Linked DNA regions of Homo sapiens. The protein of the gene in region 3 purifies or fractionates together with the protein of the main gene of each other region. This does not show direct contact. Each region holds a gene or a part of one and is shown on either strand. Other genes may lie near its edges.

Region 1 (2,793 bases), on a different chromosome or scaffold from region 3:
CAATATCCAGAAATCATAGGCTACTGAGGAATGTTCATGGCACCACCATGCCCGGCCAATTTTTGTATTTTTAGTAGAGATGGGGTTTCACCATGCTGCCCAAGCTACTCTCAAACTCCTGAGCTCAGGCAATCCGCCTACCTTGGCCTCCCAAAGTGTTAGGATTATAGGCGTGAGCCACAGCGCCTGGCCCTGGCCTCTCCTGTTTTTTTTTTTTTTTTTTTTTTTTTTGCTTTGAGATGGAGTCTCGCTTTGTCTCCCAGGCTGGAGGGCAGTAGCATGATCTTGGCTCACTGCAACCTCCGCCTCCCAGGTTCAAGTGATTCTCCTGCCTCAGCCTCCCGAGTAGCTGGGATTACAAGCACGCACCATCATGCCTGGCTAATTTTTGTGTTTTTAGTAGAGACAGGGTTTCACCACGTTGGTCAGGCTAGTCTCAAACTCCTGACCTCAGGTGATATGCCTGCCTCGGCCTCCCAGCGTGCTGGGATTACAGGTGTGAGCCACCACGCCTGGCATCGTCTTTATTTTTTAAAAGGAGTGGAACCTCCTTCTAGATGAAATATTATGAAGAACCCCAAAATGCAGGTAAGACAGATCAAAGTGGGCCTGTCCAGTTGAATCAGAAGGCTCAACTGCTTGGTCTCCCTCCTTTCCACCCCTGCAAAATACTGCCATCCCTGTCCATTTTGCAAGGCACTATTTAGTTTGCTGGATTTTTCCTTACCTTTTCTTCCTTGTTAGCACAGACCATTTTCATCACACATTTTGTTTTCCTTTTGGTAACTGCGTGATACATCGGGGTAAAGCTCGTTGAATAGGTCTTCACATTTTCTATTCCATATTTATGAATGGCTTCATCTACAATGCACATTAAAAAAAGCATCTATCAGAAAACTAAACAATTACACTGAACTATCAAAGAGGGAGATGACCAGAAATACATAACCTCAATCAAACCACGAGGAAATATCAAACCACGCCAAAATGAGAAGTATTCTACAAAATAAATGTCAGTGTCATATAAGACAAAAGAAGGGCTGAGGAATTCTGCCTCTAGATGAAAAGAAAGGCCAGGCACAGTGGCTCATGCCTGTAATCCCTGCACTTTGAGAGGCAGAGGCAGGTGGATCGCTTGAGCCCAGGAGATTGAGACCAGCCTGGGCAACACAGTGAAACCCCATCTCTACAAAAAATTAGCCAGGCATGGTGGTGGTGCAGGCCTGGTAGTCCCAGCTATTCGGGAGGCTGAGGCAGAAGAATTGCTTGAACCCAGAGGCGGAGGTTGCAGTGAGCAGAGATCGTGCCACTGCACTCCAGCCTGGGTGACAGTGGGAGAGCTTGTCTCAAAAAGAAAAAAAAAAAGAAAATGATACTCGGTTTATGTAAGGGCCAGTTCTTAGGAAAGATAGACATGTGTGTGTGTAGAGTGAAAAAATAAAAAAGCAAAAATATTAAGGTTAGAGAGGAGTCCTTTGTATTATTTTTAGAGCTTTTCTTTAAATTTAAAATTAGTTCAAATAAAAAAGCTAAAAAAAAAAGATCAAAGAGATAGGGTGGTGTGAAGGAAAGATACTGTACACTCAAAGTAGTAGCAGGGGAGAAAACTGGAACTGTGACAAGAGAGTAACCAAAAAGCAATGTAATCTGGGGCTGAGATAGGTTTCATCAGCTGACAGAGACCTAATTTAAAGTTGGGGGCAGGGGAAAGAGGAAGGAAACCACAAATGACCTTCAGTTTTTAAATACCTACCTTCCGTGAGTCCCACTGTCCCAATAGGGGGGTGGCTGAAGACCACAGTTGGGATGTTGTTATAATCTAATTTGGAATCTTCCTTATATTCAAAAAGTCGATGGGCAAGTTTTCGGCCAGCAGCTATTGCAACTATGGAGATATTTTAAAATCAGTGTTTATCTTACTGTCTGTTTTAACATAGCTAAATTGTTCCACTAGCCATTTATCCATCTACCTTAATGCCCTAGTTCTGACAGTTTCACACCATTGTTCATTACACTATCTAGATAGTTTAATACAGCGAAGATATGTCATGCCTCAGCGAACAACTCAAAATGATTGGCTTATGAGAATCCTATACATTCTATTACAGGTTGAGCATCCCTAATCCAGAAATTCAAAATCCAAAATCCAAAATGTTGGAGCACCATGATGCCACAAGCAGAAAATTCCACACCTGACCTCATGTGAAGGGTTGCAGTCAAAAACGCAGACAAAAGTATGCCTCATGCACACATTTAAAATATCGTATAAAGTTACCTACCAACTATGTGTATAAGGTGTATGTAAAACAAATGAATTCCGTGTTTCGACTTGGGTCGCATCTGCAAAATATCTCATTATATATATGCAAATATTCCAAAATCTGAAACTGAAAACACTTCTGGTCCCAAGCATTTCAGATAAGGGATGCTCAACCTGTCTGGCCCCACTCCCAAAAGACACATTCACAAGTTCTCACTTACCTGGCAGTTAATCTACTTAATGAAGATATTAGCTTTTTAATACAATATTTATGGAACAAGCTATATTAGTTTTCAGCATCTTTAGTTCTATTTTATAACCCTAAAGTGCTGGAATTACAGGCATGAGCCACTGCGCCTAGAATCTTTATTATTATTATCATTATTATTATATTATTATTTTTTTTTTTTAGACAGAGTCTCGCTCTTGTTGCCAGGCTGGAGAGCAGTGGCGCCATCTCAGCTCGCTGCAACCTCTGCCTCCCGGGTTGAAGCAATTCTCCTGCCTCAGCCTCCCAAGTAGCTGGGACTACA
Region 2 (3,653 bases), on a different chromosome or scaffold from region 3:
TTACTCTATTTAAATGTTAATTCCACATAAGGCAGAGGAAAGAAGTTATAGAGAAATAAAAGAAAGCAGCTTAGAGCAAACAATTATGTAAATAATAACGAAATACACTAACCTCCATCTAATGTGTGAGGAAATAGGATCCATGACGTAAAAACTTGAATAACAGTTAATGTCCTTCATAGGAATCTGACCACCGTCACTGGAGTAGACTCAGTTTACCGGGGTTTTTCACACATACACACGTATATATGTATATGTATACACACGTATGTATATGTGTGTGTGTGTGTATATATATGTGTGTGTGAGTGTATATATATATTTTTTTCTTTTTCTTTTTCTTTTTCTTTTTTTAAGATGGAGTCTCGCTCTTTCGCCCAGTCTGGAGTGCAGTGGCGCGATCTCGGCTCACTGCAAGCCCCGCCTCCCGGGTTCATGCCCTTCTCCTGTCTCAGCCTCCCGAGTAGCCGGGACTACAGGCGTGAGCCACCATGCCCGGCCCACAAATACATTTTTATTGGCGTGGTTGGGTTTGCCTATAAATGCTTAGCTAGCTTGATGGATCAGTCTTCATGAGCCCTTGACCAAATGTCCAGGTCACCCAGGAAACTCCCTCCCCAAGGCCAAGGCCACTGCGGTTAAGCTCTGGCTGTCTGAACTTGCCCCTGAACCATGCCCTCTGGCCTGATGGAGCTGAGGCTTCTGGTGTGGCCTCAGCACTGTGAAGTTTTGCTGCAGTGGTTGCATCTCAGTGTAGGGTGGTTTGACTTCAATGGTTCATACTGAGCACAGGTGCCCATGAACCTCCGCCTGCCTGGTCTGCAGTTGCTGGCATTCCAGGGCTCTTTTCTAGGCTTGCCCTCTGGCCTGGGAGCTTGGTCTCCAGTGCCTTAGCACCCTTCCTGGGTCTCTACTGCCCCCTCCATGCCAACTTGGTAGGCTTGGGCAGAGGACCCAGAGGCCTCTCCTTCCACAGGGACTTCAACAGAAGCCATTGAATATAGACCTGTAGCATATTCCAGCCAGGCCTGCCAGTTAAACAAAGAAGGGCAGATAACCAGGGGAAGCTAGGCTCCAATTCAAGTAACCTGAGTTGTGGGTGCTGCAGGGGCTGGGCCACCCTCTGATTAAGGTCATTTTCTAAATAATTTAAATGAACCAAAGTTGTTCTCCCTTTCCGTGTTGTTTCACTTCCCTCCCCCCAACTTTTTTTTTCTCTTTTTGAGACAGAGTTTCGCTCTTGTTGCCCAGGCTGGAGTGCAATGGTGTGATCTCGGCTCGCTGCAACCTCTGCCTCCTGGGTTCAAGCGATTCTCTTGCCTCAGCTTCCCAAGTAGCTGGGATTACAGACACCCGGCTAATTTTTTGTATTTTTAGTAGAGACAGGGTTTCACCATGTTGGCCAGGCTGGTCTCAAACTCCTGACCGCAGGTGATCCACCCACTTTGGCCTCCCAAAGTGCTGGGATGACGGGCCATGAGCTACCGCGGCTGGCCTCACTTCCCCTTTTCATGAGGACTGCAGGATGCATTCCTGTAGATTGACCATCTTTTTCCTGTTACATAATGTGGTGGAGTGGGCAAGCGTGACGGAACCTATATCTTGGGGGACGCCCTAATCAGGTTTGGGTCGTGTAAAGGTTCCTATTGAAGTGGAAATCATCCGTCATGAAGATGTGTAATCTTAGAAATGCGTGAGCCGTACTGCCAAAGCATACCCATGGGGTGATCACACTGTAGAGGTTAGAATGATTGGGCCTGGAGCTGCCCTTTTTTCTTTTTCTTTCTTTCTTTTTTTTTTTTTTTTTTTTTTGAGACAGGGCTGGCTTTGTCACCATGGTTGGTCTTGAACTCCTGACCTCAGGTGATCCGCCTGCTTCAGCCTCCCAAAGTGCTGAGATGACAGGCGTGAGCCACCACACCCAGCCCACATATATATATATATATATATATTTTTTTTTTTTTTTTTTTTTTTTTTTGAGATGGAGTCTTGCTCAGTCGCCCAGGCTGGAGTGCAGTGGTGCGATCTTGGCTCACTGCAAGCTCCGCCTCCTGGGTTCACACCAATCTCCTGCCTCAGCCTCCCGAGTAGCTGGGACTACAGGTGCCGGTCACCATGCCCGGCTAATTTTTTTTGTATTTTTAGTAGAGATGGGGTTTCACCGTGCTAGCCAGGATGGTCTCTATCTCCTGACCTCGTGATCTGCTTGCCTCAGCGTCCCAAAGTGCTGGGATTACAGGTGTGAGCCACCGCGCCTGGCCAACAAATACATTTTTATTGGCATGGTTGGGAACTTTCATCGGCGTTATTTTATTGGCATTTTATCGGCACTTTGGGAGGCCAAGGTGGGTGGATCACCTGCGGTCAGGAATTTGAGACCAGCCTGGCCAACATAGTGAAACCCTGTCTCTACTAAAAACACACAAAATTAGCTGAGTGTCTGTAATCCCAGCTACTTGGGAGGCTGAGGCAAGAGAATCGTTTGAACCCGGGAGGCAGAGGTTGCAGCAAGCCGAGATCACGCCACTGCACTCCAGCCTGGGCAGCAACACTGGGAGTGCAATGGTGCAATCTCAGCTTACTGCAACCTCCGCCTCCCGGGTTCAAGGGATTCTTCTACCTCAGCCTCTGGAGTAGCTGGGACGACAGGCGGATGCCACCACGCCTGGCTAATTTTTTTGTATTTTTAGTAGAGACGGGGTTTTACCATATTGGCCAGGCTGGTCTTGAACTCCTGACCTCGTGATTCACCCGCCTCAGCCTCCCAAAGTGCTGGGATTACAGGCGTGAGCCACTGTGCCTGGCCCCCTTTTTTTTTTTTTTGAGACAAGGCCTGGCTATGTCACCTAAGCTGGAGAGCAGGTGTGATCTTGGCTCACTGCAGTCTCCAGCTCCTCAGCTCAAGCAATCCTCCCACCTCAGCCTCCCAAGTAACTGGGACCACAGGCTCATTTTTCTATTTTCTGTAGAGACAAGGTTTTGCCATGTTGCCCAGCCTGGTCTCCAAGCTCAAGCAATCTGCCCGCCTCGGCCTTCCAAAGTGCTGGGATTACAGGCGTGAGCCATTGCGCCTTGCCAGACTTTTTTCCTGAAGCCTTCCAAGAACAATTCTGTAAACTGAAGGAAACCCCTTTCCTTTTCACGTCCAGGAAAGATGTGTAAGAGCGGAAAGTGATAGCAGTGAATGCTTCCCTTGCCAGTGTGGACTGAGTGAGGAGTTCAGAATTGAGTCTTCCACTAACAACCTACTTGAAAAAGTATATTTTGACATTTAAGGAAGCAAAGTGCTGAGAATATTATGAGTGCCACCCAGAATTGAACAATGGCCTTTTTAAATGGCGTAGATTTTCGTTGACAGTATGAGAGTTGGTGGCCCTGATGACTTTGTGTTGAGAGACTGAGGATGAACACTGAAGTATGCTGGCTGCTGTGACAGCTTGTTCCTTGAGAGCCGGGCCCCTGGGAGGTCCTGTTTCACTCACCATTGGCTCCCGGGCTCATGGACAGCGGCATGAGGGTGCCATCAAAGGCCGCCTGATTCAGACCCCTGCATACCCACCAAAGCTGTGTTCTGCCTGGTCTCCCTTCAGTGGAGAAATCGAACCTTGTTCTCTACTGTTTTCTTCCTGAGTCCCCATGGAAAGGCTCTCGGC
Region 3 (3,653 bases):
GAATGTACACAGCACAAAAGATGGTTCATAAATAGACTCATAAAAGGAAGGCCTGGAAATGAGGCATCTTCTAATACAGGCATGTTAGCTCTAAGGGTTTTTTTTCATTGTGACATTGCTTTCTGAGCCAAAATAATGACAAATTGTTGGTGGCTATGGTTGGCTGTGGGGCCAGGGCCACCTTGGGATGTCCATTAAGGTCTGATATTGTCCAGCAGACCTGGCCTAGGCCCAGCCCCAGGTTGCAAGTTCCTGCAGCAGACTATTTGGTCAGTCACTGAGCCTTGTAATCACAACCTCTTGTGGCAAGAAAGGCTTTCAGTAACCAGATACCCTGAATTATGTGATGGCTCCACAAAGGGGTGTGTGACACATTGGGCTGAAGTCAGAGCACAGATTAGGGAGCTGAAGTCCCTCTGGCCTCTGTGGAATTCCACTGAAGTACACCCTGCAGCAATAACTGTATATTGTCTTACCCCCGATGCGTCCCTAAGCTGTGCCCTTCTCTCCAAAATAGCCTTGTAGCCTTTGCTGGATTAGGGTAGCCAACAGTGCATTCTGAGCACAAAGACTAGCACTGTGATTTAAAAGCTGGATAATTAACACTGGGAAAACTTGGACGCTGGGGGTGCAAAACCCAAATTATACCTCAAATACAGCGTGCCAGTAAAGCCCAGCTTGTCAGCTTTCTACTGGAGGCCTCACGAGGCTGAGTGTAACTGGGGAGTGTAACTTGGTTGGTGGGCAGGAGAATTTAAGGTCTCTCCATGGATTCCCACTCAAGTCAGCTCCCTGAGGGTTTTCTGGCATCAAAGCCCTTGGCTACTAGTTGGGTTCAGGCCCAGGCACAATTAGTGTCTCCGGCCGCAGTCCCAGCTTTGAGAGCTCCCAGACCGCCTCCGCCTTTTGAAGGATGGCAAATGTTCTTTAGCAAAGACTCCGACCAAAAGGCCTTTTATTCTTACGCCCTATTTCCATTCCCCAGAGCTGCAATCAAGGCCCGAACCCCACCAGCAGCACGCTGGGTGGTGCAGGTCCTTAAACCTTCACAGCTTCCAGGGGCTCGGACCTTTACCCTCGGCCACAAGCAGCCCCAGTGGCCCAGCTTTGCGACAAAGATTTCGCACGCGCACATCCCGCTTCCGGCCTGGGCCTCAGACGGGGAAACCTTGGGCTAAGGGCGGAGCCTAGGCTAGGGGCGGAGCCTTAGTGGGGCGGGGAAGGGGCGGGGCCTAAGCTACGGGCGGGGCGAGTCGGGGCGGGGCGGGGCGGGGCCGATCGGGGCGGGGCCGCGGGTCTCTTACTGTGGTCGTCGCTTAGCGCTCTGTCGATGAAGGCTGCCGCCGGGTAGAAGAAGACACTGAGGTCGAAGGTGGGCAGGTCGTCGGCCTCCACGCCGTGGTACTGGATGTCCATGTCGCGGTAGTAGTCGGGCCCAGTGTCCACGTTCCAGCGGCCGTGGGCCGCGTTCAGCACGTGCGTGAACCCCGCCTTCTGCAGCCTATAGCGGTCCAGCGCCGTCGCCCTGGGCGCAGGGGAGAGAAATCTGTGGGCGCGCGGCGCCCTGCCCCGGGTCCGGGAAACTCAGGGGCCACCCACGCTTTCCGCTGTGGATTCCAGTTCCAGAATGAGGACTAGTTATTGCAAATGAAGTCCCAAAGCTCTGCTCTTACCCGGTCCCCTAGGCCACCTGCACTGTTTTGTGATTCTGGCTCGGCTGTCTCAAGAAAGGACAGGGTGGAGGCTGGGGTAGGCAAGCTGAGCTATTCGTTCGTCCATTAGTTCTTTCATCATTCAGTATACACAGCGGAACCTGGTGCTGGCCTCTACGGTGGTCGCAGATCTGGACCTGCCAAATCGCCTGAAAGCCCTCCAGAATAACCTGTTCATCAGGGCTGCCTTCTCCCAACCTCTGCTCTGAACCTGCTGGATGTTTTTAGGGTTTGGAGATGGACGCTCAACTGAATGGTTTAAAGCAAGGCCTTCCATAAGAGGATTGGATTGGGATTGGGCAAAGTTCACAAATTCACGTTGGCACGATGTGAACGGGAAAGTGTTGCTTTGGGGAGCTGTTGCCCAGCTGGGCAGAGCATTGTTCTGAGAAGGAGGGCTTTTTGAGCCATCTGTTGTTTGAATTGATTGCAGGGAAGTTCTTGAAGCCAGCAGTGAAGTTATTTAATGGGCTACAGCTTTATCTTTCTAGGCAAGAATTTCCAGGAACAGTAAAGTCCTCTTGAAGTAGGTGGCTCTGAAATATGACTCGATGAGAAGGCAGCATGGTGGGGCCGGAGTGGAGATGGGCTGCCAGAGGAAACACGGGTTCTTCCTGCCTGTGGGGTGGGGCAGGGAGAGGCCTGTGTCACTACAAGTGTCAACATTTGGTGATGGAGGGGAAGAAGGAGGCAAGCGCGGGCCAAGCCAAGGAAACAGCACCACCTGAGGTATGGAGGCTGGAGACAACGAAGGCCTTTCAGGAAGCATTGTCTATTTCCTGTAATCAATTATCCATCCCCAAATAATTATTTGCAATCTATTATGTGCCAGGCACTGTGCTGGGTGCTGATGGTAAAGAAATGAACAGGGGCCGAGCACAATGGCTCACGCCTATAATCCCAGCACTTTCGGAAGCCGAGGCAGGCAAATCACATGAGGTCAGGAGTTCGAGACCAGCCTGGTCAACGTGGCGAAACCCTGTCTCTACTAATAATACAAAAAGAAAAAACAAAAAACAGCCAGGTGTGATGGCGCATGCCTGCAGTCCCAGCTACTTGGGAGGCTGAGGCACAAGAATCGCTTGAACCCAGGAAGTGGAGGTTGTCGTGAGCTGAGACCACGCCACTGCACTCCAGCCTGGGTGACAGAGTGAAACTGTCTCAAAAAACAAAAGAACAGGTTAGTGAAGTTCCCTCAGGAAGGTCAGATACTAATGGGGGTAGGAAATAAACAAAGATAATTTTAGATAGCAGTGAGAGCTATCCGAAGGACCTAAAACTTCATGACATGATACAAAATGACTGTGGTCCTGCTTCAGGCAAGGCGGTCAGGAAAGGCCACTGTGGGGAGGTGGTGTTTAAGCCAAGACTGAGGGATGAGAAGGCTGAGGAAGAGTTGGAGAGAAAGCGTTTCATCCAGGCAGAGGGAACAACTGCTGAGAACAGAAAGGAAGCCAGTGTGGCTGAAGTGGCAAGGGGAATAGGAGTTTGGAAAGGTAGAGGGGCTGGAGCATGGTGGGCCCTGCCCGCCATAGGAAGGAGTATTATTGCAAGTGTGGTGGAAGTCTGCTAGAGGATTTTAAGAAAGAAGTAAGCATTGTTTACTTTTTTAAAGATCAATCTGGCCAGACAAGGTGGCTCACACCTGTAATCCTAGCACTTTGGGGAGGCCAAAGCGGGAGGGTGGCCTGAGACCAGGAGTTCAAGACCAGCCTGGGCAACATCATGAAACCCCATCTCTACAAGATATAAGGGAAAAAAATTAGCCGGGCATGCTGGCATGTGCCTGTAGTCCCAGCTACTGGGGAGGCTGAAGTGGGAGGATCACCTGAGCTCAGGGAGGTTGAGGCTGCAGTGAGCTGTGATTGCACCACTGCACTCAGTCTGAGCAGCAGAGACTCTGTCTTTAAAAAAAAAAGAAAAGAAAAAAGAAAGAAAGAA

Evidence for each region.
Region 1: the proteins of DUSP29 (region 3) and GSR purify together in Homo sapiens (affinity purification with mass spectrometry, with the first as the bait; one large-scale study listed by BioGRID). This does not show direct contact.
Region 2: the proteins of DUSP29 (region 3) and RCC2 purify together in Homo sapiens (affinity purification with mass spectrometry, with the first as the bait; one large-scale study listed by BioGRID). This does not show direct contact.

What each region holds. Positions count from the first base shown.
Region 1 is NC_000008.11:30,680,177-30,682,969, forward strand, and holds part of GSR (glutathione reductase, mitochondrial isoform 1 precursor), read right to left. Parts: intron 1,886-2,793; coding exon 1,754-1,885; intron 862-1,753; coding exon 728-861; intron 1-727. UniProt on the Homo sapiens protein: Catalyzes the reduction of glutathione disulfide (GSSG) to reduced glutathione (GSH). Constitutes the major mechanism to maintain a high GSH:GSSG ratio in the cytosol.
Region 2 is NC_000001.11:17,429,659-17,433,311, reverse strand, and holds part of RCC2 (protein RCC2), read left to right. Parts: intron 1-3,653. UniProt on the Homo sapiens protein: Multifunctional protein that may affect its functions by regulating the activity of small GTPases, such as RAC1 and RALA. Required for normal progress through the cell cycle, both during interphase and during mitosis.
Region 3 is NC_000010.11:75,042,493-75,046,145, forward strand, and holds part of DUSP29 (dual specificity phosphatase 29), read right to left. Parts: intron 2,331-3,653; coding exon of another isoform or gene 2,192-2,330; exon of another isoform or gene 1,557-2,191; intron 1,526-1,556; coding exon 1,305-1,525; intron 1-1,304. UniProt on the Homo sapiens protein: Dual specificity phosphatase able to dephosphorylate phosphotyrosine, phosphoserine and phosphothreonine residues within the same substrate, with a preference for phosphotyrosine as a substrate. Involved in the modulation of intracellular signaling cascades.